7 separate regions of the Homo sapiens genome follow, and regions 1, 2, 3, 5, 6 and 7 are each reported to be linked to region 4. The links are microRNA targets in miRTarBase. Many come from high-throughput screens and were not tested one by one. Region 4 holds a microRNA gene; each other region holds the end of a gene's coding sequence.
Evidence for each region. Region 4 holds the annotated microRNA hsa-miR-4500 (UGAGGUAGUAGUUUCUU, at 1,613-1,629, opposite strand). A microRNA usually pairs through its seed, bases 2 to 8, with sites in the 3' UTR of a target mRNA and lowers its output. Matches are read on the target gene's strand: a 7mer-m8 pairs with bases 2 to 8, a 7mer-A1 pairs with bases 2 to 7 and ends in A, and an 8mer does both.

Region 1: miRTarBase lists COLEC12 as a target of hsa-miR-4500. The part of its 3' UTR that is shown has no 7-base or 8-base seed match.
Region 2: the mRNA of PM20D2 is a reported target of hsa-miR-4500. Seed matches in the 3' UTR shown: 7mer-A1 at 399-405.
Region 3: the mRNA of THEM6 is a reported target of hsa-miR-4500. Seed matches in the 3' UTR shown: 7mer-m8 at 2,989-2,995.
Region 5: miRTarBase lists FBXW2 as a target of hsa-miR-4500. Seed matches in the 3' UTR shown: 8mer at 778-785.
Region 6: miRTarBase lists GNG5 as a target of hsa-miR-4500. The part of its 3' UTR that is shown has no 7-base or 8-base seed match.
Region 7: the mRNA of SEMA4C is a reported target of hsa-miR-4500. Seed matches in the 3' UTR shown: 8mer at 649-656.

Annotation. Positions count from the first base shown.
Region 1 is chr18:316,228-320,294 of GRCh38, reverse strand. It overlaps COLEC12 (collectin subfamily member 12), which reads left to right. Exons shown (of 10, transcript NM_130386.3): 10 at 231-3,558. The coding sequence ends at 250. Among named protein-coding and RNA genes, the nearest start is that of THOC1, 50 kb to the right of the region's middle.
Region 2 is chr6:89,162,017-89,166,075 of GRCh38, forward strand. It overlaps PM20D2 (peptidase M20 domain containing 2), which reads left to right. Exons shown (of 7, transcript NM_001010853.3): 7 at 93-3,549. The coding sequence ends at 247. Among named protein-coding and RNA genes, the nearest start is that of PM20D2, 18 kb to the left of the region's middle.
Region 3 is chr8:142,735,012-142,739,078 of GRCh38, reverse strand. It overlaps THEM6 (thioesterase superfamily member 6), which reads right to left. Exons shown (of 2, transcript NM_016647.3): 2 at 2,152-3,753. The coding sequence ends at 3,640. Among named protein-coding and RNA genes, the nearest start is that of SLURP1, 5.4 kb to the left of the region's middle. RefSeq lists an enhancer at 124-690.
Region 4 is chr13:87,617,059-87,621,125 of GRCh38, forward strand. It overlaps MIR4500 (microRNA 4500), which reads right to left and starts at 1,682; the gene lies at 1,607-1,682. All of the region lies in intron 1 of LOC124900338 (formin-like protein 5), which reads right to left. All of the region lies in intron 1 of MIR4500HG (MIR4500 host gene), which reads right to left.
Region 5 is chr9:120,761,210-120,765,276 of GRCh38, forward strand. FBXW2 (F-box and WD repeat domain containing 2) reads right to left here. Exons shown (of 8, transcript NM_012164.4): 8 at 1-3,638. The coding sequence ends at 3,350. Among named protein-coding and RNA genes, the nearest start is that of FBXW2, 30 kb to the right of the region's middle.
Region 6 is chr1:84,498,564-84,502,626 of GRCh38, reverse strand. It overlaps GNG5 (G protein subunit gamma 5), which reads left to right. Exons shown (of 4, transcript NM_005274.3): 3 at 657-801. The coding sequence ends at 782. Among named protein-coding and RNA genes, the nearest start is that of SPATA1, 5.8 kb to the left of the region's middle.
Region 7 is chr2:96,857,141-96,861,207 of GRCh38, reverse strand. SEMA4C (semaphorin 4C) reads left to right here. Exons shown (of 15, transcript NM_017789.5): 15 at 1-1,490. The coding sequence ends at 582. It overlaps ANKRD39 (ankyrin repeat domain 39), which reads left to right and starts at 3,192. Exons shown (of 4, transcript NM_016466.6): 1 at 3,192-3,320. The coding sequence starts at 3,221. RefSeq lists silencers at 2,662-3,331, 3,362-3,531.

The sequences.
Region 1 (4,067 bases), not on the chromosome of region 4:
GACCAGGCTTTCCCAGAATAGGCTTTTCAAAATGAAACTTGGCTTTTCAAAATGAAACTTATCTTTTCATCCAAATAAGATCTTCTAGACATTTCTTTGAAAATATAAGCATTGTTGAATGATGTATTTTAGACACTGTCCTATAAAAATACACGTTCCCTTTTTTTGAATTGCACATTAACTTTATTATTTAAGAAAAACTAATGCCCATTCTTATTTCTCTCTTTTAGTACTGTCATCTGCATTATAACGGACTGTGATGGGATCACATGAGCAAATTTTCAGCTCTCAAAGGCAAAGGACACTCCTTTCTAATTGCATCACCTTCTCATCAGATTGAAAAAAAAAAAGCACTGAAAACCAATTACTGAAAAAAAATTGACAGCTAGTGTTTTTTACCATCCGTCATTACCCAAAGACTTGGGAACTAAAATGTTCCCCAGGGTGATATGCTGATTTTCATTGTGCACATGGACTGAATCACATAGATTCTCCTCCGTCAGTAACCGTGCGATTATACAAATTATGTCTTCCAAAGTATGGAACACTCCAATCAGAAAAAGGTTATCATTGGTCGTTGAGTTATGGGAAGAACTTAAGCATATACTGTGTAAACAGTGCCATACATTTCTAAAATCCCAAGTGTAGGAAAAATATGCAGACATACAGATATATAGGCCAACTATTAGTAATAATATGAAATATACTTAAAGAGCTTTTAAAACTTTGTATTTTTGTACAAAATATTTGTCTTTTACAATTTTTTTCCTTTTTTTTTTTTTGTCATTTTACCGACATAATACATGGAGCCAAAGAAAACAATAATGGTACTAATAAAAACTCCTAGGGTTTCCTGTCAGATTTAATTCTACCCAGTGGCAAAGAATTTTTTCAATTGTGGCTTTAAAAAAATAATTAAATATACATGTGTATATATATATATATATATATATTTTTTTTTTTTTTTTTTTTTAATGTTTCATTTCCTCAGAGGAACCAATCACTTGGAATGTCTAGAAATATCCTTGCAGATTTTGCCAGTGTCAATCAAGCCTGCACACATGCACAGTGAAGCGGGCTGTGCCTGCCTTGAGCCCATCACCAGCCAACATTCTTGACGTGTGCCTGACCAGACACAGAAGAAATGGGCAACTCAAGACGTGCTTCCACTTCATTTTGGTGGAGTCGGGAGGTGTGGGGGATGGAGAGGCATCTGTTGGGAAGGGCACTGAATCTGGCCTATCTGGAAGGCCCTGTGTCATGGCTGAGCTATGACTGTACTTGGCATCAGATCCCTACAGAGCCAACATTAACTGTCAGGAACGTATGGCGTCACATCAGCCAAAGGCAGAGATGCTAGAAAGATGGGAACCGGCTACGTGTTACCTGGAAAGTTTGTTTTCTTAAGTCATATTCCAAAAACATAACTCCAAGGCATACGCATGATAAAATGCAAGAATAAACTTTTGGCCACTTTGTGGAACTCTTAAAAGAACCTTTCCAGCCGGGCGCAGTGGCTCATGCCTGTAATCCCAGCACTTTGGGAGGCCGAGGCAGGCAGATGACTTGAGGTCAGGAGTTCGAGACCAGCCTGGCCAACGTGGCAAAACCCCATCTCTACTAAAAATAAGAAAATTAGCCGGGTGTAGTGGCACATGCCTGTAATCCCAGCTACTCAGGAGGCTGAGGCAGGAGAATCGCTTGAGCCCAGGAGGCAGAGATTGCAGTGAGCCAAGATCGCACCACTGCACTCCAGCCTCGGTGACAGAGCAAGACTCCATCTCAAAAAAAAAAAAAAAAAAAAAACCTTTCCTCTGAGCCCATCTTCCTTTCGCTCCTTGACTTTCCTTGACTTGCTGTTGGAAAGTCTAATATGAAAAGGGCTGAAACTAGGCATTAAATATAACTGATGCTCAAAGGTAAGATTTCCATCCAACAGATTCCTTCTCCCTCCCAAGGGTCTTCCCAGGCAGTGCTGCTACTTATCCCAAATAAAATGGTAAAAGAATAAAGACAGCCGGGCGCGGTGGCTCACGCCTGTAATCCCAGCACTTTGGGAGGCCGAGGCGGACGGATCACAAGGTCAGGAGATCGAGACCATCCTGGCTAACACGGTGAAACCCCGTCTCTACTAAAAATACAAAAAAAAAATTAGCCGGGCGCGGTGGCGGGCGCCTGTAGTCCCAGCTACTCGGGAGGCTGAGGCAGGAGAATGGCGTGAACCCAGGAAGCGGAGCTTGCAGTGAGCCGAGATCGCGCCACTGCACTCCAGCCTGGGCGACAGAGCGAGACTCATCTCAAAAAGAAAAAAAAAAAAGAATAAAGACAGAGTTTGACTTTCCCACCTGCGAACAAGTGGACTGTACTGCTTTGCCCACAGTCTCCATTCCCCATTCATGCTGTTTTCACAGCCCAGTAATGGCCAACTGCTCAGCACCTGTGTGCCCTGCTGTCAGGCAGGTGGGACCCACAGTCCTCTGGGCCTAAACTGCTGAAGCCTGCACCACAAGGCGGGCACGGCATTCCAACACCTCTTCAGGCTCAACAGCCTTTAGAGGCTACACTGAGTCCTCTTTTTCATGCTCTTCCTGGTTTTCAAGTGTCAATTAAAATTTGTCTTCAGAAGAAACTTGAAAATAAGTATCTGATGCCGTCATCAGGATAGACTAGTATTAGCTTTCGCAGCTGAAGTTATTGCTCTCCCAGCCCTAATAATAACTTACCAAGTGCTTATTATTTATCAGGCACTGGTCCAAGTCCTTCAATCAGATTGTCTCACCTGATCCTCCCAACAGCCCTAGGAAGCAGGTCTTACTACACTCCCCATTTCACAGGGACTGGGGCTTGGGGAGGTGATGCGGTTTCCTGGGTCACTCCATTACTGAGTAGTGAGACAGGATTCAGACGCAAGCTTTGAAAATGTTCTAATTTTCTTTAGAAGGAAGGGCCCTTCTTAATAGCACACTGAATAAAATCAAATGAATAATCACACATTACAAGATGCCTCCTATACGTCTCTATATTTAGCTACTTACATACCAGGTTTCTTTTTTGTTTGTTTTTGTTTTTAAGACAGAGTCTCGCTCTGTCACCCAGGCTGGAGTGCGGTGGCGCGATCTCGGCTCACTGCAATCTCTGCCTCCCAGGTTCAAGCGACTCTCCCGCCTCAGCCTCTGCAGTAGCTTAGGGACTACAGGTGCGTGCCACCATGCCAGGCTAATTTTTGTGTTTTTAGTAGAGACACGGTTTCGCCATTTTGGCCAGGCTGGTCTCAAACTCCTGACCTCAGGTGATCCACCCGCCTTGGCCTCCCAAAGTGCTGGGATTACAGGTGTGAGCCACCGTGCCCGGCCTACACACCAGCTTTCTATTCACCTACACACAACTGATGCTCTTTTGGAGTGGAGAGTTTTAGTAAAATATGATGGGGTCTTCAGGCACCTGAGTTGCTACTTACTACTATGAGAAGATAGAAAATGTTTTTTCCTCTAAACAGCTTTTGAAAGAATGAATGCACAACAAGGCAAAAAATAAAAACTTTCTTTTCCTTTTCTACGATCAATGTTCAACAACTCGTTCCTTCCAATTTGTAACAGAGTTGAAGCTGAAACAGACAAAAAATAGTAATAGCTGCTCCCATTTAAAGAAAAATGCTTGAGGAAACAGCTGTATAAATCAAGAAACAATACCAAGCAGATGACGAAACTGATCTCTTCTTGAGAACGTAAGCATGTTAGCTCATTCGTGACTCAAAGTCATGTAATAATAGTTGACATATACCACTTTTCACATACATTATCGCTTCCAGTCTTCACGCACATCTATTGTTCCTGCTTGAGAAATGAGGAAACTGAGGCTCAGGTTGAAGACTTGCCCATGGCTCACGTATCTGTCACAGTCACTTTCCAAAAAGCAAATCTGATCAGGTTCCCCACTCAGGTCCCCAAATCTGAATCCATCCTACCTCTCACCCTCGGCTTAAAATCTTCCAAACAATCCTGGTTGGGCTCAGGACATACCTGCAGGGGCCGTAAGGCACTTGGTACCTGGTTCCCAACTCCAAGTCT
Region 2 (4,059 bases), not on the chromosome of region 4:
TTGGAGAGCCAGTTGAGATACGGGTAGCTAACCTGTGAAATTAAATACAGCTTAAATAAGTAAGGAGGTATTTTATTTTCTCTACCTTTTAGGGTCACAGGAAGCTCAGTTCTACACTCTGCGGACGGCCAAAGCTCTGGCAATGACGGCACTGGATGTTATTTTTAAACCAGAGTTACTGGAAGGAATCAGAGAGGACTTTAAACTGAAACTTCAAGAAGAACAGTTTGTAAATGCAGTAGAATAAAAGACTTAGGGGCCACTTATAAATCAAGAAGACGTGATGATTTTTTTCTTTTAATCTCTTTTAATGAAGGCATGCTTGTTTTTTAATCTTAAAGGAGTAAAATTCTTTTTACCTGATAAGTGAGGACAGGGTGTGGAGAAAACATATTAATTACCTCATATCTAAAGTGAAAATTTTTGCAAATCCGTACTTGATAGGATTATGATATTACAGGAGCTGGTATGTGATGCCATTCTTTCTTTTTTTTTACCCCGCAACCACTCACCTTCACAGTAGTGATACCATTTCTTAACCTGGAGGATACATGGCATCATTTTTATAAAATATGTTAGTAAACCTTTTTGTAAGCCTTAAATGTTATGTGTATTTTTAAAAGCTTAAGAGATTTCAAACCTTATATTCAGAATTGACACCCATGAGAGTGTTTTGTGGTATAGGGTGGTAAACTTGTTCTCTAATCGTATATTAATTCCTCTACCAGATTGTATATTTGAAGCCAGTGTCTTTCCTTTTTTTGTTTTAAGATAGAGCCTCGCTCTGTTGCCCAGGCTGAAGTGTAGTGGCACAATCTCGGCTCACTGCAACCTCTGCCTCCCAGGTTCAAGTGATTCTCCTGCCTCAGCCTACCAAGTAGCTGGGATTACAGGTGTGTGGCACCATGCCCAGCTAATTTTTGTATTTTTAGTAGAGACGGCATTTCACCATGTTGGCCAGGCTGGTCTCGAACTCCTGACCTCAGGTGATGCACCTGCCTCGGCCTCCTAAAGTGCTGGGATTACAGGCATGAGCCACCGCACCCGGCCTGCCAGTGTCTTTTTAATACACATGTGTGTTGGTATTTTTAAATTGTTACAGTATCTAGCATATTGCTTACTCTGAATATTCAGTACTTTTTGAATAAGCAAATATTGCTTCCTTGCTTGGAATCATCAGAGTTTAAAGTAGCTTCGTGGATGGACCATGATCCTAAGATGAGTTTTAATTTTGTGTTTACAGTCATCTCTTGTACAACGTGGAGAAGAAAAGATATACTTACTACTTTGCTTCAGGTACACATAAGAAAACCTCTTTTTTAAAAAAATTTTTATTTTTTTACATAATAGAGACAGGGGCTCGCTGTAGCTTCCAGGCTGGCCTCAAACTCCTGGGCTCAAGCAATCCTCCTGTCTTGGCCTCCCAAAGTGTTGGGATTTCAGGTATGAGACACCACACCTGCCCATTTTTGTTTGGTTTTTTAATGGGCAGGTTCTTGCTCTCCCAGGCTGGAGTGCAGTGGTGTAATCACAGCTCACTGCAGTCTCGAACTCCTGGACTCAAGCAGTCCTCCCACCTCAGCCTCCTAAAGCACTGGGATTACAGGCTTGAGGCACTGCACCTGGCCCTGACCATTTTTTAAAAAGGTTAGGCTTAGTGCAAAGTTTAAAATTATATGATTCTTAAAATACTGAATTAGTTTCTAAACTAAACTAGAGGTATAGGTGGACCTGCTTGAGGTATCTTTGTTTTTATGGAACATTTTTATTACATGCCTTTATAATTTTTCATTGTTCACACCCTGTACTGAAACCTTTTTCTCAAATACCAACTCTTGGCTATGTTAAATTTGTAGACTTTAAAAGATGTTATCTAAATTAATGGTTTAAATATACAAATTGAAAATATTTTCTTTTTAGTGGCAATTTTAAAAGCAGGCCTTAATATGGGACCTGCTTTTAAAGTAAAATATGTGGTACTATGAATTACTAAATTGCTATATACCATGTAATAGTGAGTATAGCTAATATTTAGTATGCCTTTTAAAAATTTTGGACTGCTTTTCGGTTTTAACAAATTCTCCACATGTGAACTACTCAAGAAATTTTCCCTTTTTAATTGCCTCTATAGCACTCATAAGAGCTAGGGCATTAGGATAAACTAGAATATTTTATGTTTATGAATACTTGTATAAACTTAAAAGTGTTTTGATTTCCCACAATTTCCCAAAGGAATGTTTATTTATTAAGAGTTGTGTTGATAATTTAACTGTTACAATTTCAGCAGTTGAATTCAGTGAACACTGGTTGAGGAGTGCCTATTTCTAAGCACTGGGTGTAAGAAGAAAAGACACTTGCAAAGGAAGAGCTAAGATTAACATAATTTCTTTGGTTTTTCTATTGCTTGTTATTATTATGTAAAAACTGGGTGGCAGTTCACAAGGAAGATTGTTGTAACAGAAGAGTGACAACCAATAGTTTTTTGATCATTAAATCAAATTTTGTAAACAGTGGCAGGAGCGTGGACTTAAAACAAGGCTTGCTTATTTGGTTTTGTCAAAGTTTTACGAAAATATATGATATATATTTATACTAAAACTATATAATCCTTAGATTTAGGAAAGCAATCAGTTAATGTCTTTAGCACACTAAAGCAGTATTAAACACAGGTACAAGTTGGAAATTGTAGAAAACTGAAAGAAAACAAGACAAAATGTCTATGGTAGGGAATAAAAGAGTTTAAGATATTATGTAAAATTATGTGTATTTTCTTCTCTTTTACATAAATTGTTTGTGAAAAGTGTGCTCAACTTTTTTACAAGAGTGATATTAACTTGGATTTATTTTTCAATATAATTTGGAGACCCTTTGTTATCCAAATAAAATTGATGAGTTTCTGTGCCTGTAAAAAAAAAAAAAAAAAAAAGAAAAGAAAAGACACTGTTGCATGCCCCAGAAAGCTTGTGGTGGGTGGTAAGTTCTCACGAGATTTATTTATCTGAGCAACATTGGGACTGAGGGAACATCTGAAAGCTACCATCTTGAAAATTTTTGAGGAAGTGTTTCTGAAATATTTAAAAATACTTAAGTCAGTCATTTTGAACAAAAGAAATTGATACAATAAGTTTTTTTTTTTAAGGATGATTGTCTAATTTTGTAATATGTTGTTTTTTAAAAACCTGTCTGATGGTGTTTTATACATTTCTAACTTTTTACCTGAGTTATCTCTTTAGTCTTTTGGAAAATACCCTACACAATACTAACCTTTAAAACTATCAAATTTTTGTTATAAGATAAATGTTATCTTTGTACTAGATAGCAACCCTTTATAAGGTTGTAAGGTATAATAAACTGCTTATTTTTTTACATACTTCATATCAAGCATTTTGCAGTCCAATTATATAGTTGAGGATGGTGTATTTTGATATGTATGAAGTTAATATTTTCAAGTAAGCAATCAGTCTACTACCATCAGATTATAAGCTTTTTTGTAATAATAGGTACATAAAATGTGTATGAAAAATCTACAATAAACATGTTTATCTGATAGCAATTGTCTTGCTTTTTTAATGACCTGAAGATATATGTACGAAGATGAAGCACAATCATCCAAATCCATTGTGATATACTATACTTTTTCTTACGCATCAGTATCATAGATGTTGACTTGCTTTTCCACTATGTGTCAAATATTTTAAAAGAACAATTAAGTTCTTTTGTTTAAAAATGAATGTTTCACTAGTCTCAGAAGCTAAAAAATTGCAGTGCAAATTGTACATGGCAGGAGGTAAATACATATAGTATTGAGTTTCCTTTTTTAAAAAAAGTTTACACATTTAATACAGAGTAATTCCATATAATAACATAAATGCAATGGAACAGGTTTTTGGATCCTGGCTAAAGTATAAGTGCCTCATATGAGAAAAGTCACAAATGTCCATGTTTCTTTGTTTAAACTGGTTTTTAATTTTTATTCTTATTTTTGGAGACAGGTTCTCACTGTCACCCCGGCTGGAGTACAGTCAGTGTTGTGATCATGGCTCACTGAAGCCTCATCTT
Region 3 (4,067 bases), not on the chromosome of region 4:
GGTCAGACCAGCCAGCGCTAGTCTTCCGCAGCTTTAAGAAATCTCTAAAGGAGAGGGGTGTGCAGACCGCAGGGCGTCCCTCCCCGCCCTCAGGAGCAAGACCCTCCACCTCCCCAAGGGTGCCCCCAACTCGCAGGTGTCCAGAGGGGAAGTCATGCGGGGAGCGGCGGCCTGGGCCTGGGACGAATCAGCCCCTTTGGCCTGCCTCGTTGAGCCCCTGGCGGCCATACTGGGAATTCCCTGCCCTAGTCTGTTTCCCTATCCATGAGGTGGGCGATGGTCCTGCTGTCCCAGAATTCCGGACACCAGGCACAGTAGAACTCCACTCAGCAAGGCCTCAGATGTGGGGATCTGTGTCCCTGGGCCCTGAGGGGACACAACAGTGGCCAGTCAGCTGACTGAGCCCAGAGGCGGTGGCTGGATGCTGAGACTGAGCAGGCAACTGACCTAGGGTGAGCCCCGGGGACACCCACCAAAGCAGTCGTGACTCTGTCCACCTGGCCATCAGAGGGCACAGTGCCTCCTCCCCCAGGACGACGGACCCATGCACAGCCACCACCCCAGGACCTCCGGACACACTCCCATACCCTGTACCTGTCCCTTCTTCACCAGCATCCACCAAGGGCTTCCTGGGCCCGACACCTGGACACTGTGCAGACACCTCCGGGGGTGGGGGCGGCTGGGGCAGAAATTCTGCAGCTGTTGGCCTTGGGGGAAGGACGCGGGCCGAAGCAGTTGCTGCCCTCTAACTTCTCCGAGTGGCAGGCTCACAGGAGCAGAGTGGGCTCCAGTGGCTCCGCCAGGACAAGGCACTGGTTCACTTCCAATCCCAGCCACCCATTCCCTGACCCGGGCCAGTCCTGTCGTCAGCCCGTCCTCCAAAAACAAGACCAAGAGAGGGCCCTGCTGGCTCAAACCTTCCTCTGAGCCAGCCTATGACAGCCCAGGGTGTTCAGCTTCTGCATGGAGAGAGAAGCCCCAGAGGCTTGCGGGTGCTGCCCATTCAACCACCTTGAAGCTTGCCCGTTGCCTGCGTGCACGTGCGCACACACACACACACACACACAAATGCACACAGGCACGCACATCCATATGCGCACTGGATACACTCATTCCTAGTCCAGTCACTGAGCCCTACTCCCTATCCAGGCCAATGTGCCTTCCACGACCCAGAGGTAGCTGCTGAGCCAGGGACCGCAGTGGCATCATCACATGGTGCCCTCCCAAGGCCCAGGCACCCTGTCCTGTGGCCCCCGCCCTGCTCCAGGGCTCAGGCAGATGGTCAGGACCATCAGCTGGACGGCATCCCTACAGCTTCATCTGCAGCCCCACTGGGAAGCTTGTCTGGCAACACTCAGCTCACACACCTGTGGCGACCCCACGAGCCACCTCCCCCAAGGACCCCAGAGAAAGCACAGAGGCTTCTGGCCAACCAGTCTGGCTACAGACCCCAGATTTGCTGAGCAAGTTTGCTTCCCCTCCCCAGCCCTACTGCCCCATCACTAAATGCCGGTTTCATAGCTGTTTCCAACTGCCCACTCCTTCCCTGGCCCTCAGAGCCTTCTGGACCCTCCCAGGAAGGTGGTCACAGCATGGACGTGGCCACACCCCGCCTCACTCAACTTTATGTCCCGGAGGGTCCCACTTCTCCCCACCCCTTTTGAAGGGCCTGCAGAACAGCCCCCATGCTCTCTCTGCCTCCTGTCCACCCACCAGTCCATTGACCTCTGCCCCCAATGGCTACCAGCACCCTGCCCGAGGCTCTGGGAGCCTGGAGGGCCAGACCCAGAGTCTGAGGCATGACCGCCAGGGTAATCCCTGAAGGAGGGAAACCGGGAACCTGGCGCTGGCATCTGTAGATGGGGCTGCAAGCCTCGAGAGCTGGGAACCAGGAGGGCCGGAGCAGGAAGGGCTGGCTCCCCAGGGGGCTTTGGACAGCACCTTCTTGGCCTCAGTCCTATGCCCCATGGGATGAGGACAAGCCCTGCCCTGCCAGCCTGATCCCTAAGTTCACGGGAGCCCAACAAACCTGGATAGCCCCCCATGCCAGACACCCATCTTGGGAATGTGCCCCAGCTTCCCTGGTCCCACCTCCGCCCCTGCATGGATGGTGGTGGTGGTAGCTCAGAAACAAGGCCCTCCCCAGCACGCTTGCAATGAAAACCCTTTAATGTTGGGCTTTCTTTAAATAAAACAGAAAGGTTGCAGCTTTCCCATGGTGGCTGTAAGGCAAGAACAGCAGTGAGGGCGGGCGTGTTCTATCGGGCAGTGCTGCAGCCCTTGACTCTGGCTCAAGGTGGGCTTCCTGGAGGCAGCGGCAAGGAGGCAGTTCTGGATGTGCAGGCACAGATGTAGGGGAACAGGCAAGCGGGCACAGGGCCCTGAGCTGACAAGCAGTGACCCCTGCACCCAGCTAGATGGGGCACCCCCTCTCTGGGAGCTGAGGGCATCAGCTGGAGCCTCAGGCTGGGACCAGCCCCAACTTTGCCTTGGTGACTCTGGGCCATTCCAGGCCTCAGTTTCCCCAGCTGTAAGGTGAGGCATTAGGCAGGAGGGGGTGGCCCCAGCCAGTGTCCTAGTAGCCTGGTGTCTCCATTAGGGAGACCTGAGAAGCTGCCAGGAGAGGCTCTGCTAGCGCAAGGCAGGGCCGGCCCAGCAGCTGACAAGGAACATGCTGAATATAGAGGACAGAGGAGTTAAGAAGACGCCTGCCGGCCAGGCCAGAGAGGGGCAGCTCTAAGGGGGTACAGCGGCCTGTGGTGCTGTAGGCCCAGAAAGGGTGGGGATCAGCCCAAGTCACAGAGCATGGCCCTGGTGGGCGGCGAGGGGTGCGAGTGGACAAGGACACCCCTGCAGAGTCCCACCCCCACTCTATTCCCTCCAACAAGGGAACGCCCAGCAGGAAGCCTGCTGTCTTTCCAGGAGCCCCTGTGCCACCTAGTCTGACCCCTCTCAGCCACAAGGCTACCCTCCCGTCCAGCCTGACTGGAGGTAGAGGAGGAGGAGGAGGCAAGGCCGACTGCAGTGGGGAGCCCGGGTGCCCCGTCCTCTGTCAGCAAATGCCTCCCTTCCATCTGCCTCTAGCCCCGGCCTCTGACCACCCAGGCTCTGCCCCAGGCCTGCAACCACCTCAGCGGAAGCCAGAGGGGCTGCCTGGCAGATGCCGCTCTGACCCTTCAGGAGTGCCCACTGCACCTGAATCAGGCCCAGGCCCTGGAGAGCCCAGGCCTGTACCCAGGATGCTCTGGTCTGGCCCTGCCTCGGCCCTTGCAGTGGTCCGAGCCAGGATCTAGGCTCGGGAGGCACTTGTGGGTCCCTCTGCTCCAGGCACCATCCTCCCCTACCTAGGCCCACATGAGTGGCCTCATCGTAGGGCCAGGCAGGACTCTCCTTTGCCCATCCATCCCCACCTTGAGGGCAGAGCTGGGTCAGGATGCCAATGCCACTCCTCCTTCTGCCTAGCGTGGAGCCCAGCACAGAGGGGTATCAATAACTGGGGGGGCCCAGTGGGTGGAGCAGGGTGGGCCAGGCTGGTCAGGAGGCTACTCCAGCTGGAACAGAGTATGGCTGAGACTGCCCATCTGTGGGCAGCCCCCAGGCCCAGGATGGTGGCCAGGGCAGACGGTGTGAAGGTGGCGGTCACTGGTCCTTGGTGACATCACTGAGCCCACTCTCCATGCGGAGCAGCTGGCTGCTGGCCTCGTTGTAGGAGATCCAGTGCTGCAGATCAGCGGGCAGCTCAGGGGGCTCCACCTGCAGAGGACAGAAAGGGGACACCCAGCTAAGCTACGGCCTTCCCACCTCTGGGCCGCTGCCCACACTGCTCCCCAGCCCGTGACCTTCCAAGATCCCCTGCCCCGCCGCCTGCCATGCTTTGCCCATGCCTCCCCAGGCTCTGCACACTTGTGCTACCCCTGCATACCCACCTTGACACAGCCCCGCTTGTGCCTGGCCCGTCTCCCCTAGGGGCCATCCCCAGAACCCAGCCAGAAACCCGTGAAGTTGGCAGGTTGGGAAGGGCAGAGAGGAAATCCAGAGGCCTCAGGGTGACAGGGGACAGAGGGGTG
Region 4 (4,067 bases):
GTATCTGATAAAGAATATGCTTATATAAGGTTATTGTGAAATTATTATCAAAATAGAAAGATAAAACTAAAATAAAAATTTTAGTAGAGAACTTGTGGAACGTAAAAAAGCAATACTTTCAAAAACCTTCTCGCATCCATAGTAGCAAGTTTGAGAAACACTACATAGTAGACACGGAGAAAAACTAGTTTTCATACAAGTACTTTTCAAGAAACTTTTTAATTTCACCACAGAACAATTTAAGTTTATGAATTAGAAACTCGAACCCATATTTTCCAGAAAAAAAATGGTAAAATTATAGTTTTGCACCCAGACCTTTACAACACAATTTAATTTATCTTGTAATATAGCTGAAAACTCTATTTTCAGTAGACAGTAGAAATTACTTCAGCAAAGTCTCTATTTTATTTTCAATGTATGAATATCAATTATGTAAATTCCTTCATGGTAGTTTCTGGAGGTATTGTAATAAGAATAATTAAACAAAAGCTCAAGAGTAGTACTTGACAGGATCTTTTTAAAATTAATGTTGAATGCAGGTGCCTGAGGAAAAGTAAATTTAAGTATTGAAGTGGAAGATACAGAACTTCTGTCAAAATGCTGAAAGGACCTGGTTACAAATGGAGGCTTAAAATGTTTATATTACTGATTGTTAATTATGTCTAATTTACTTAGAAAGTTAAGTCTCATCTGGGCATGGTGACTCTTATTCATAATCCCACCATTTTAGGAGGCTGAGGCAGAAGGATCACTTGAGCTCAGGAGTTTTAGATCAGCCTGGGCAAAATGGTGAAACCCTGTCTTTACAAACATTAAAAAAAGAAAAAAAATCAGTCAGGAGTAGTGATGTGTGCCTGTAGTCCCAGCAACATGGGAGGCTGTGTTGGGAGGATCACTTGAGCTTAGGAGGCCAAGGCTGGGCTGCAGTGAGCCACGATTGTGCCACTGCACTGTAGCCTGGGCAACAGAGTGAGACCCTGTCTTCAAAACTAAACAAAACAAAGACAAAGAAAGAACTATTGTTCCTAAAACTAGCCTGAAGCTTGTCGTCTATTATTGAGTTCTTATTTTAATCAAATAAAATTAGTACATGCCATTTTTTCTTAGTAATCTCCTCACAGCACTAGGAAAACTTCACTCTTTCAGACATCTCAAATATTTCTGACATTTTCCTTTTCTAAAACAAAACATGTTTATTACAAAACATACCATAACATAGACAGTCATATCTATAAAATGATGGAATTCTGCCATTAATGGATACTATTATATCTATCTTACTATTATGCCTCAAGCCATGCCAAGATGAAACATTTAGTATCTTTTTTTTCTTGATCTCAAACTCAGGGTGCTTCAGGTAAGGGGTAAATACTTTTCTATGTGACTGTAACCTAAACTTCCACAAGTCATCAAAACTACGTAAAAACGAATTCACATGTGTGGTAATAACATTACTACATCACATTTTTTACTGGCTCTTGTTTTCAGAAGCTTGCAGAGACTCTGTACTTTTGCAAATGTCCTCCCTGTTGTTGTTGTTGTTGTCATTGTTGTTGTTGTGGTTGTGGTTTTTAACTCAGGAGACTTTTTGCATGTGCTCACAAATAAGTTCAAGAAACTACTACCTCAGCCATTATGCGTTTGATCTACACTTTAGCTTCTGGGCAGTACTTTCTCTCCTGGGCTCTGCTATTGCCTCTACTGGAAAGCACCATATTATTAAGGCAAAAGTTTAGTTTTATGAAGGTGTCACTGCTTCTTCCAGACACAGGCGCCATTTGCATTAGGGATCATCTTGTGTATAAGTTATTAGGGATTGTCTTGTGTATAAGTTATCTTATCACTCTGGCTGCTCCTGACAATGTTGAATTTTACCAGAAACCTGTACTCCTGGAAAACAGCAAAGGTTAAAAAATCCCCCCAGTCTTGTGTCTTCCAGGAAATGGTTCACTGCAAAGAACCACACTTCTTCCTACGACTTATATAAGATTTATGGGTGCCTTCCTTATTTACCCATGACAAAGCTGGACACAGATCTTCTGAATTCCTATTCTTTGAGTCATATAAAATTAGTTGATGAGCAGTCAGGCACCCATCTTTGGTTGATGAACTTAGATTCCTATGTCTTAATCTCGATCAAAAAGTGTTCTTTAGGGAAGAATTTTGAGATATTTGGAACCGAATTCAATGTTTTACAAACGTACCTCTTATGTTTTTATAGCATCTATTGATATGCTATTCTAAGATGAGGACAAACACACCAATATAATTTAGTAAATAGTAGTTGATAAAAGTTCTATATCCACACAGCTATTTTAAGTGAGTCAGTTGCATCCTAAAGGAAAGAGAAAAAAATATTTAGAGCAAAAAGAAAGACAGATCTTTCTTTTTTTTTTCTGTCATAGCTATACGTTCTCTGGCTGACATACACTCATAATTCAGTATGTACTTATTGAATAAAGTCAGGAAGTTGTTGTGTAATGTAATGATATAATATGCTTCAGAGAATGAAAACAAACCAATTCTATATTACAAATCTGAAAATGGACAACCACTGGCAATAGACTTTCTATGTCATAAAAGTAAAGAAAAATATAGTTGGGTCTATTGTAGATTAATAGAGATTTAAGAACCAACACAACCAAATACAATGTGTGATTCTTGATTGACTCCAGGTGTGAGCAAATCAGCTATAAATACACTTTTAGAATATCTGAATATGCTCAAATATAGAATTTGTGGGTATTTTGTAATATTATGTGATTTGTCTCAATTATTTTAGCTGTAATAATAGCACTGCAGCAAAATTTGAGAATATTAATTTTTGGAGATATATGCTTGAAGTATTTAGAATGAAGTACCAATGTATCTATAATTTACTTTAAAAAGAACATATACCTAGTGATGCAAATATAGAAAAATAGAAACAGCTTTTGCATATAGACTTGGGTATAGAGTGTATTACACTCTGTATTTTTCCAAATGTGTAATAGAATGTCCATGCCTATCGTAAAAAAGATAGAATAGAAGGAAAATAAAATATTTGAATAAATAAGATAAAAATAATAAAGTATCTATATACCTACCACTTGCTCATTTCAAAAAGGAAAGACACTTAAAAAGTTTCCTTAACACACGTGAAGCTTCTGAGAGTAAGGGAGACAACAACGCCTCCTCTAGACAAAAATGTCAGAAGGAGAGCTCTGCAAATGCCTCCCTAGCCAAAGTAAGGTGAATGGTGTAGTTAGCCAAGGAGCAAGATCGGCATGTTCTCAAGGGCTAGCATCCTATTTTCCCTGAAATCTGTACCAAAATATCTTTAGTCCTTTAAAAAATACCAAAATTAGTTTTAATAAAAAATCCATGAGTTACTTAATATTATTCTATTGGTAAATATTTTTATAAACTTACAATAATTTCATAATAAAATTTTATGGTATAGATGTGTGCATGTGAGTGTGCGTGTGTATGTGAGTGTGTGTGTGTGTGTGTGTAAGTGATTGTTTCCTTAGGATAATTTCCTACTAGTAAAATTGCTGCACAAAAGGTCTGAACATTTTTGCATTTCTTAATTAAGGTTACAAAACAACTTTCTAGAAAATACAGACATAGTCATAAATGGAAATTAGCACAGTGGCTACCAAATATGCAACTTGCAATATGTAGGCATTACACAAAGAAAATGATATGCCTGGTTTTCTTATTTCATGCTCTAGCCCTATTAAGTAAGTAGACTTTACTACTAACACTTAACAGAATAAGAAAATAAGGCTTTAATTGTTTAGGTAATTTAAGTGTACACTGAAAGAAAATTATACACAGTTATCTATGTTAATTCTTCCCATCAAAATATATTTGATTTCTATCAACAGTTCTTGGAATATGCACCATTTCAACAGTGCATCTTATGGTTTTTAAGGGCTAATATAAGTGAAAAACTGTGTCTTACTGTTTTAAAGGTTGAGGATCTGTGTGTCTTCATTCATGGTTGCCTTTTTCCATCTTAATCACCTCCTCCACCTCCACTTGGACATCCATATGGTTCTTATGAATTTACAGCTGATATG
Region 5 (4,067 bases), not on the chromosome of region 4:
ATGATGACAGAATCTATCAGAAACTTCACACATCCACTCAGCTCTCCTGGATCCCTGTCCACACCATGAAGCCTGAAGTTGTTATGATGGCCTTTATGAACCTGAAAGAAGCCGCTGGCTTCCACCACACCACAGTGTCACCCAAGAAATCCAATCCTTGTAAGAAAGGATAGGGCTTATCTTCTCATGACTTAGAATTTTTCAGAAATGAGAATATTCACAAAAGAGGGAAAGGCAATTCCCTTACCTATGCGCTAAGGAAGCCAAAGTCAGTGTGTGCAAGAGCTAGCTCTCAAAGGCAATGAAAGGAGAGTAAAGAATAGTTTTAGTTATCCCCTATCCACTTCTCATTCTGACTCCCCACTTTGCTTTCTTTTGCAAAAAGGATGAGCTAGTTTTCCATTTTTATAAAAACTGGCGATAGTATGAATAAACCCAGCATCTATAAAGTAGTTGAATAAAATCTCAGGCCAAATAAAGGCCTCCATAAGGAAGAACTGACATTAGGACTCCAATTACTGCCTGAAGTTCTGCTGTCAAAATCCAGCTGCATGATGATGCCACTGTACTCCAGCCTGTATGACAGAGCAAGACTGCCTAGGAAAAAAAAAAAATTCCAGCGGCACCAAGTACCACCTTGATGACTTCTGTATTCACCACTAAAAACTGAAATAGAACATACTATATACAGCTTCAAGTTTGTCACTTTTTAATAAAACTTTTCCCACAAATGATTATAATTACTTGCCCTTTGAAGCTATTGGATAGATCTGAAAGTGAGGTAGGGTGGGGATGGTCATTAGATCAGTAATAGTTATCTGTTCAGGCTCGATAAAAAGTAAAAACTCGGCCAGGCGTGGTGGCTCACGCCTGTAATCCCAGCACTTTGGGAGGCCAAGGCAGGTGGATGACCTGAGGTCAGGAGTTCAAGACCAGCCTGGCCAACATGGTGGAACCCTGTCTCTACTAAAAATATAAAAATTAGTTGGGTGTCATGGCAGATGCTTGTAATCCCAGCTACTTAGGAGGCTGAGGCAGGAGAATCACTTGAACCCAGGAGGCGGAGGTTGCAGTGAGCCAAGATCGTGCCATTGCACTCCAGCCTGCGCAGTAAGAGCGAAACTCTGTCTCAAAAAAAAAAAAATAATAATAAAGTAAAAAGTCATTTACCATCATCATTGCCCAAAGTCTCCTGGGGCTTCTGCAAAATAGATTCAGTTGTGATTCCGGTTCTATTTCTAGAGTACTAAGCAGAGCTGATGCACAGAACTCAATGTGAGATAGATTAAACCCAGATTTTGTGGGATGGGGGAAGATATTGTTCTTTTGCTTAAACCCCACAGAGTTTCAACATGGATATTAATGATATCTGTCCTTGAAATTCACCATTAATTTCTATCAACTTCACAGCACTCAGAGGTCCAGAGTCTGGCTCTATGCTAATGCAGATTCTGCAAGAGATAGGTCCCCACTCTAGAGTTCACATCATTCTCAGCTCTGCCAGCAACCCTTTTTCTCACCTGTAAAATGGATATGCTTTATACTGGAGTCAGCAAGAAGGAATAACTCATGTTCCCAGACATAAGCTGTCACTGAGGTTCCAATTCTTATGTTCATCTTCAAACTACCTTCCTATTGGTCTGTGAATGAAATACATCCCTCCCCACCACCCTTGTAATACAAGGGGAGACAGCTGAAGAGCGGCTGAGATTTTTCTACTGCTTGCTCCCTCTACTCTCTCCCTGATTGTGACCACTAACATTTCCACTGCTGAATCACAAAATTACCTAACTTTAGAGAGGGAGGAGGACACAATCTGGCAACCCAGGGACATGTTTTGTTTGGCTCACCTTATTTCAAATTTTCTTTAATCAGTTGTAACGTTTTAAAAATCCAGGATTTCAAATAAAAATCTGGATTTCTAGCTCCTCCTGAAACAATGTGAAGACCTGCCAACCCTGGGCTTGCTTCTCCTAATGACAAAACAGAGCTGAATAACTGCCCTATTAGATCAACTTTCCAGGGGACAGCACAATCCTCCCCAGAATGTTTTACTCATTTATGTTACCTGCACGGCTCCCTTAGGCATTTGGGTTTGTGAGCCCTCATCTAGGACAATTCCCTCACTTAAAAGATGAAGAAAATGATGGTCTTAGAAGAGAAAGTTAACTTGCCTGAGGCTGCAGATTAAGTTAGAGGCAAAGGAGGAAGTTAGGTTGGGTTCAGGTATCCTTCTAGTATAGCATACTGTGTCCCTATTTAAACCATGGCTTCTATCAGCATTTCTTCAACCAATTACTTAAACTGTCTAAGTGGAATCAGCTATATTTTCTACATTTCCCTTTTATTCATCCTTTTCATATAATTGATGTTCTTATAGAAAACTCTGTAACAGTCATTTCATTTAAATATTATCCGACCTGAAAGAAACCATGAATCAGGGATCAGACAAAAATACATGATCAACTTTTACACATTTCAGTAGGTGAAGGACCAGAAAGAATCTTAGAAATCACTGAGCTTCATACCTGGCTGTACAGACAAGGAAGCTGGGACCCAGAGAGGGTGCAGAGTTCCAGGGTAAGAGGCCCGGTCTCTAACCTTCCAGCTCACTGCTCTTTTCTGCTATACCAGGGCACCGCTGTGCAGTCATCCAGGCTGCCGGGGACTAGCTTCCCCGACATGGCAACAAAAACTACAGAACTCGCTCACATCTTAAACATGGCCAACCTTGACTCTGCCAAGATATAAGGTTTAGAATGAGTTGCTAACATTCAATTTACAGAATTGGATTTGAACTGGAAGACAGACTTTCCTTAGCACTGGTATTTGGTGGAAGTTTATAAACTGGTATTTGGTGGAAGTTTTAACACTGGCTCTTATAAGAGCTAAACCCCGTGTGAGGAAAGTTGCTGTAACAACATCATAGCACCTTTGCTTCAACTTCAAAAGAAAAAAAGGCTATGGTAAAAAGCTTTAATAACAGACAATGTGATTTCATAGGCAACCAATTAGCAGATTAATGGATCATTTAACTTTCTTTACTTAAAACCAATACTCCACTCAAGAAAGATGAACCCAAAATGCATCCTCTAACACTGACCAACATAACTAAGTACAAATGAAGTCAATGGTGTACCCCATTAGCATGCTGCGTTGTATGTCAATAAAACAAGCCCTCCCCCACCCCGAGCCCTGGCCCCTGGCAAAACATAGATAAATGATTGTGCACTGCGTGATGATACCATTAGGTGAGAACTTTGGTTCATGCAGTCGGCTGCCGCAGAGGTTGCACCCAAAACCCGCAGCCCCGGCACCCAAAGTCAGTCAGCGGTGGTGGCTCATGGTGTCAGCCGTGCTCCTTCCACAACACCAGGTGAATACTGTGGTCAGGCATGCTGGTGGCAAAGACCAAGCCCGTGTCATTGTGCCCATCCAGTCCATTCAGCCAGGATGCTTCGCCTGCCAGGAAGCTTGAGCCTCTCTTTGATTTCCTGTACTCTGGCAGAGGCCAGCGACTAATCAGGCTCTCTGTCCGCAAGTCCATGATGTACAGGTAGCGGTTGTCAAACAGCAGGGCAAAGATATCTCCAAAGCCAAGCAAGGCCAAGTTTGCTATCTCAGGAGTCTTGATGACCCTACAAGGATGAGAGTTAGGGACTGTGAAAGAAGGCAACCTTGCTTCTGTTTATGCTACTGTAATCTTTTCTGGAGATATTTAAAACCAATATTAAATTCAAGCAAATTTAGAGTTAAATGTTTTTGATAAAAAGTAAAATATAAGGAGAAAAGCTCAGCCCACTTATAAAAAAGCCGGGAGCGGGAGAGGTGCGTTCAGTCATTATATAATATTGGCATGGAAGGGAAAGGTGGTGTTTGATCAAAGTTTTTTTTTTTTTTTTTGAGACAGGGTCTCACTGTGTTGCCCACACTGGAGTACAGGGGCGTGATCTCGGCTCACTGCATCCTCCACCTCCCAGGTTCAAGTGATTCTCCTGCTTCAGCCTCACAAGTAGCTGGGACTACAGACGGCTGCCACTGCACCTGGCTAATTTTTGTATTTTTAG
Region 6 (4,063 bases), not on the chromosome of region 4:
TGTTAAGTACCCTCAGGTTTGCACTTGAACAGCCTATTATTAATAAGCAAGATGTGCTACGCTTTGCAAAAATCAACATAATTCTACTGTTTGTACTCAGTCATCTGATGCTTCTAGTAACCAAGCAAAAGAAAACATACTTAATTAAATCAGTCTTATTTGCAAGCACTAGTTTTAAGTATTAAGAGCTCACTAGGCTGGGCGTGGTGGCTCACACCTGTAATCTCAGCACTTTGGGAGGCCGAGGTGGGCGGATCACGAGGTCAAGAGAGAGAGACCATCCTGGCCAACACGGTGAAACCCCGTCTCTACTAAAAATAGAAAAACTAGCTGGGCGTGGTGACGTGCGCCTGTAGTCCCAGCTACTCAGGAGGCTGAGGCAGGAGAATCGCTTGAACCGAGGCGGAGGTTGCAGTGAGCCGAGATCGCACCACTGTACTCCAGCCTGGCAACAGAGTGAGACTCCGTCTCAAAAAAAAAAAAAAAAAAAAAAAGAGCTCACTATTTGACTTAAGTCTTCAATTATTATATAGTATCTTCTTTTGAAGCAAGAGAAGTACTGTTTTATTGTAAGTACAATATTTCCAAAGATTGAGAAAACCTTCATTAAAATGTTCTCACCATCTGGCACTTCCCCCCCTCTTTGTTATGTATAGGTTTCCCAGGCAGCTGCAGACTTGAAACAGTTCTGTCTGCAGAATGCTCAACATGACCCTCTGCTGACTGGAGTATCTTCAAGTACAAATCCCTTCAGACCCCAGAAAGTCTGTTCCTTTTTGTAGTAAAATGAATCTTTCAAAGGTAAGTTTCCTTAAATTTAAAACAAAAACCCACACTGTAGGAATAACTAGTCTTCTCTTTCTTTGCAGCACTTAAAAGATCATCCCATGCCCTTTCCTTTGGCCCTCCATTTCCAGTATTTTTCTGTTTTGCAAGGAAAGTGAGGATTCATGAAACTTGCTGACTTAGTAGCCATGAAGGCTAATCGTTTCTATTTTACCATAAAGAAGGTTAAGTAGAGGATTTAATAACCATAAAGAGGGTATAGGAGAGTTACTACAAAATCCCACTGCCGTAACAAGCCATGTGTTACTTTTTAGAGCATTGGCCTAATGGAGTCCCCAAGTACTAGTTTTGTTTTTGTGTACCTGGCAAATATTTAGACAGTTTTTAAAAAATCTGCAATGTTTATGGGGATAACTTAAAGTACTACCAACTGATTTGGATTAACTCTTGATGTTATTGCTCTAACTGAACCCAGCTGTAGAGCAGTATAGCAAAGATTGGGAATTGGAAATGCAAGAGAAAGTCAGATGTAATTGAGTAAGCCAGTGTGGTAGAGGCGTTTGGACTGAGGTAGAACAGACTTTATATTTTGTTCTCATTTGTTAGATTAAAGATAAAACATGAAGGAAATGCAGTATATAAGTTCTTGGTGGCAAACAGACAGTGGACTGAATTTCAGAGAATTAAAAACTAAAGACCCTGTTGGCTTTATTAAAGCATGCTTCAGTACATTAATTTGTGCCTTCCAGATCAAATGTCATGTGTACAAAATGTATGTTAATCTAAGAGATGTGACCAAAAACGTTTTGGATCATTTAAAATGTAACTGAAGGGTGCTGCCTTTTATAAATTCTTAGTACTTTAGTTAGGGAATGTACTCATTAGTATTGACCTATGAGAAGCAAACTTAAACTAATAGTACTTTTTTAAAAAAGATTTTGTATATGGCACACACCCCTTACTAACTTTCTGACTTCTCCAAAGTCCAGGAAGCTGCTTCCTAAAATACCTTGTTACATAGTTGTGCCCTCCTTAATTAAGCTTCCTAGACCTGGGAGTGTCCAGGAAGTCTGTATAAGTACATGTTTCCAGTAAATACAATGATTGGTTAAGATGTTTAAGTTTTTTGAAATACCAGGGGGAAAAAAAGCCCTTTGAAAACAGGTGTCATGTGCACAAAAATGCACATGAAGAAGTAATTCACTTTCATATTTAACAGTTTATTATAATATCCTTTGTTTCTGGTACTATTCATTTAATTCTTCATGGTAGTTTTTGGAAGTTTCATATTTTTATGGTTTATTAATGATTGTTTTTTTAACCTCAGTTCTTGTATTCACTTTACAGTGGTTTATTTTCATTTGAATAAAATACTGGGCAGCTGTTAATAGTTTTACTTCATAGGAATCTACAGATAAGTGTTTAAATGAATTGCTCAAGTTTAAAAATATGGCTGGGGGTAAGAACCCAGAAGGTAAAATAATGTCTATTAATCCCAGCAGTATAAGAAAACAGCTTTGTGGATATTAAGATTTGCAGCAGTTTGGGCTAGGAGAATAATAATTGGGCATCAAAGCATTGCTTCTCAAGCTTGAATATATGCAAATCACTTTGTTAAAATGCAAATTCTAATTCAGAAGGTCTGAGGTGAGTCCCTAGAACTTGCATTTCTTACAACTGCCCACCTACACTGATGCTGACAGTACTGGACCTACACTGAGTGGCATGAATGTAAAGAATCTACATTGGAGTTATGTATATAAATACAGTTTTATCACTGGAGTGCAGTGGCGCAGTCTCGGCTCACTGCAACCTCTGCCTCCAAGGTTCAAGTGCTCCTGCCTCAGCTTCCTGAGTAGCTGGGATTACAGGTGCACACCACCACGCCCGGCTACTTTTTGTATTTTTGGTAGAGACAGCGTTTCTCGAACGCCTGACCTCAGGTGATCTGCCCACCTCAGCCTCCCAAAATGCTGAGATTACAGGCGTGAGCCACCGTGCCCGGCCCTGTATTTCCTTTTAAGAGGAAATTTTACTATTTTTTTTGAGATTCCAGCTTTTGAAATTTTTCCTCTTTTACACAAAACAAAATAGAATAACACAGGATTAAAAACTGTTAATCAGTAGAACATGTATGCACAAAAAAATGCAGATAAGACGACAGGCTTATTGACAGTATTCGCCGTTTTTCATTCTGCCTTTTTTAAATGAATTTATTTCATTAAATACTCTTTGTAAACAAGATATTTAATGGTTGTACTAAACTATGATGGAATTATACTTCACTGAATATTTAAGTTTCCAAAATTTGAGGTTACAGTGAGGTGAAGATTTTGGTGAACATCTATATATACTTAGTACCTCTATTAAGTTTCTAGAAGTAAAAAGGAGTGAACGTTTAACATTTTTACAACGTTGTACTTGATATCCCCTGCCAATATAATACTTTGGCCTTCCACTAGAAACATGAGAATGTTTTTTCCTTGAGTCCTAACAAACCTTAGTCTTTTCTGTCACTATTTTAGGTGAGATTAAACATTTTTCACAGCATTCTGTTTATGCCTTTTCAACATTTTTGTCACAGACTATCTCAGATTAACACTTTTGTACCTTTCCATATCAATAACTAATCCTAAAGTTAGTATGCTCATGTTTTAATTTTTTAGTACACTGTTTTTCAATTTAATGTTTTCATTTTTTAAATCTTTTAGTTTATACTCTATTAAACTGAAATATTATGGTTTGAAAACATAACTTATTTTTTAAGGCATAACTTATAATAGCTTTGTATTCCATCATATGTAGAAACCTTCGTTTATCCATTCTCCTACGGAGTTATATTTAGGCTGTTTCAGTTCTTTGCTGTTAAAATACTAATACAGTCAGTATCCTTGTACATGTTTCTCTATGTCTGGGTTTATCTAGGTAACTAGAAGTGTGGTTGCATCCTTTACTTCACTAGATACTGCCAAACTGCCCTGCTAAATATAGTCTTGCTCATTTTTCTAAGGATGTTTGGATTTTTGATTTAAGAGAGTTTTATTAACCTTTTTTATTATATACAGAATGTATTTTGGCAGTAATCTTAGCAAGTTAATCTGTAAGTCTGTTTATAAAACAGGAATGACTTATACATCAGAGTGGTTGTGAAAATTAAGGGAAAGATTTTACTGTTACTGGACCATAGGCATTTCCCATCCTGCTTCTTTTAAGTTATTCATGAAAAAAATTAAAAACTATGTTCTTTGATACTTTACCCTAACTCACCTTTTTTTTT
Region 7 (4,067 bases), not on the chromosome of region 4:
TACCTTGTGGCTGTCGTGGCAGGCCCGTCGGTGACCTTGGAGGCCCGGGCCCCCCTGGAAAACCTGGGGCTGGTGTGGCTGGCGGTGGTGGCCCTGGGGGCTGTGTGCCTGGTGCTGCTGCTGCTGGTGCTGTCATTGCGCCGGCGGCTGCGGGAAGAGCTGGAGAAAGGGGCCAAGGCTACTGAGAGGACCTTGGTGTACCCCCTGGAGCTGCCCAAGGAGCCCACCAGTCCCCCCTTCCGGCCCTGTCCTGAACCAGATGAGAAACTTTGGGATCCTGTCGGTTACTACTATTCAGATGGCTCCCTTAAGATAGTACCTGGGCATGCCCGGTGCCAGCCCGGTGGGGGGCCCCCTTCGCCACCTCCAGGCATCCCAGGCCAGCCTCTGCCTTCTCCAACTCGGCTTCACCTGGGGGGTGGGCGGAACTCAAATGCCAATGGTTACGTGCGCTTACAACTAGGAGGGGAGGACCGGGGAGGGCTCGGGCACCCCCTGCCTGAGCTCGCGGATGAACTGAGACGCAAACTGCAGCAACGCCAGCCACTGCCCGACTCCAACCCCGAGGAGTCATCAGTATGAGGGGAACCCCCACCGCGTCGGCGGGAAGCGTGGGAGGTGTAGCTCCTACTTTTGCACAGGCACCAGCTACCTCAGGGACATGGCACGGGCACCTGCTCTGTCTGGGACAGATACTGCCCAGCACCCACCCGGCCATGAGGACCTGCTCTGCTCAGCACGGGCACTGCCACTTGGTGTGGCTCACCAGGGCACCAGCCTCGCAGAAGGCATCTTCCTCCTCTCTGTGAATCACAGACACGCGGGACCCCAGCCGCCAAAACTTTTCAAGGCAGAAGTTTCAAGATGTGTGTTTGTCTGTATTTGCACATGTGTTTGTGTGTGTGTGTATGTGTGTGTGCACGCGCGTGCGCGCTTGTGGCATAGCCTTCCTGTTTCTGTCAAGTCTTCCCTTGGCCTGGGTCCTCCTGGTGAGTCATTGGAGCTATGAAGGGGAAGGGGTCGTATCACTTTGTCTCTCCTACCCCCACTGCCCCGAGTGTCGGGCAGCGATGTACATATGGAGGTGGGGTGGACAGGGTGCTGTGCCCCTTCAGAGGGAGTGCAGGGCTTGGGGTGGGCCTAGTCCTGCTCCTAGGGCTGTGAATGTTTTCAGGGTGGGGGGAGGGAGATGGAGCCTCCTGTGTGTTTGGGGGGAAGGGTGGGTGGGGCCTCCCACTTGGCCCCGGGGTTCAGTGGTATTTTATACTTGCCTTCTTCCTGTACAGGGCTGGGAAAGGCTGTGTGAGGGGAGAGAAGGGAGAGGGTGGGCCTGCTGTGGACAATGGCATACTCTCTTCCAGCCCTAGGAGGAGGGCTCCTAACAGTGTAACTTATTGTGTCCCCGCGTATTTATTTGTTGTAAATATTTGAGTATTTTTATATTGACAAATAAAATGGAGAAAATGAAACGATTGCTCTGATGGGGCTAAGATGTTTGGGCTAAAGCCTTTCTGGGTACCAAGAGGGAAGGCTCTCTGGGTGGAGGGAGGCTGGACTGGGCCTCCCCCACAATCCCAGGGCAGCCACCACTTTTGTGGTCCCTGCCTGCCTGTGGGAGGGGACAGCCCAGCTCTAGTGTTTTCCCACAGTGGTGGCTGCGGGGCTGGGAACGAGACCATGGCCATAGCCCCTTGGGAGCCAGCCTTGGCTTCTGGCCAGAAGGAGAAGTCAGGGCACTGGGAGTCCAGGGGAGAAGCGGAGTGGTGGGGGGGGTGCCTTCCCAGAACTCAAGACGGGTAGTGGGAATGAGGGGCCAAAGGAGTGGAAGGTTGTGGAGATGAGATCATTGCTTGTGTGAGGATGGGGTTCTCAACCTGCTTAGGGGAGGAGAAACGACTTCCAGCCTTCTACCCACCAGGAATGCTAGGGTCTTCCGTGCCCCAACTAGCGGGGGAAGGAACTTACATCCAGTGTGCACCAGACCACTGTCCTGGAGAGGGACTGGCACAGAACCCAACCTGCATTCTGTCGTTCATGCACTCTTTCTAAGCCGATCAGGCGGTCTCCCCTGTACACTTGATCGTGGCTTGAGCAGGCAGCTGCCTGGGTTTTAACTGGGAATTGAGAAGGCTGGGGTCCGCTGAGGAGCACGCTGCGAAGGTGCGCGGTCCGCAGACGGCCTCCCGGTGGGTTTTGATCATGAAGACCGATTCCGTAAACTCAGCGCCCACTGTGGGGCCAGGGGGTTCTGCACAAACCAAGGCCCTGCCCCTGCCCTGAGGTGGAGCTACAGGCAGGACAAGTTGTGGCCACCTGCCCCTTGCTGGACTTGTAAGGAAGAGCAGGGTACGGGGAGGGGCGTCTCGAGGCCTTTCCAGCCGTCACTTTGCCGCTGCCCCGGGGGCGGTCGGCCTTGGTCCGGGGTGGTGCCAGGAAGAGGGGCTAAAAACCGTGGAGCGCGCCCCGGCCCGATGGCTCACGCCTGTAATCCCAGCACTTTGGGAGGCCAAGGTGAGCGGATCACGAGGTCAAGAGATCGAGACCATCCTGGCGAAACCCCGTCTCTACTAAAAAATACAAAAAATTAGCCGGGCGTGGTGGCGGGCGCCTGTAGTCCCAGCTACTCAGGAGTCTGACGCAGGAGAATCGCTTGAACCCGGGAGGCGGAGGTTGCAGTGAGCCGAGATCGCGCCACTGCACACAAGTCTGGGTGACAGCGAGACTCCGTCTCAAAAAAAAAAAAAAAAAAAAAAAAGACCGCGGAGCGCGTGGCGCCTCCCTGCCCTAGGGACTAGGGGCGGTAAAGAGAGGAGGCTGCGAGGTCGCTGGACGGCTGGGTCATGGCGAAGGTAACGGGAAAGCTCCCGACCGGACCCAGCTGCCTCATCCCCACACCCTGCAAGGCCAGGCGGCCCGGCGGCCCTCCAGCGGCGCGCGGCTCCCGGAACCCAGCGCCTCAGTCCTCGCTTGGCCTTGGACGCCCTCGCGCGGAGGCCTCGGGGCACGGCCGGGCGCAACAAGCCCCGCCCTACCGTTGCAATTGGTTCTCGAGCTAAGGCCTAGGCGTTTGATTGGTCAGCTTTGGCGAGAAGGCGGGACTAGGGCGACAGCCGCGGACGCCGAGCGGCCAGATCAGGGACGCGGGGCGGGCCCTGCGTCCGCCCCTCCCGCCGAGGCTGAGCCTGAGACCCGGGGCGGATCGACTGACGCCGGGGCCGGGATGGCGACGCCTCGGCCCTGCGCGGACGGGCCCTGCTGCTCGCATCCCAGCGCGGTGCTCGGCGTACAGCAGACGCTGGAGGAGATGGACTTCGAGAGGGGTGAGGCTGCCGCGCGGCCCTCGTGGTTCTCACCAGGCCCCGGCCCAAGGAGGAGGCGTGGGGCCAAGGAGAGGCGGATGAACGGGGCCCCGAGAGCTTGGGGCTTGGGGCTTGGGGCCTGGTGCGGGAAGGCGGGCGGGACCCACGGTTCCCGTGTACTGAGAGCCTCCCAGGGCCCCGCACGAGCTCGGCCAGGAGACACCTGTCCCGCGGGCGGCGGGGAAGCGGAAGCACTGGTTTCCGTAACCCTCCCGAGTAGCGGGGGACGACCTCCCCTGGGAGACACAAGCCTGCTCAGGTGTTTGAGAGAGGGCCCGGGGAGCAGAATCTGCACCAGGGGCATTGCACCCAACCTGAGGGGCATGGAGCTGCAGGCCTGGGGGCTGCGCGGTGAAGGAGAGCAGTGGCCTTTGTTTAGCCCCGGGTGCCAGGCAGCCTGCATGCTTTAAAGATGGCAAGAGCTTCGCACGGGCAGCCTTCGAGGCAGGGCACAGTATCTCATCTGTGGGACCCAGAGAGGTAACACGTTTGGCCCAGATTATACAGAGATTATGGTGCCAATAGGAACAGAGGAAGGCGGGAAACCAGGGTGCTTCTTGTGAGCGTTGGGAACCACTGTGCTGTGTCATCTGCCCTTGCGGATGCAGCCCTCGATTGCCACTGCTGTGTAAGCATTCTCATGGAACTCTTCCTTTACCGTGGTTCTGGCACCTGCCTACTTCCCTCCGCCCCTCCTACCGCTGTCCT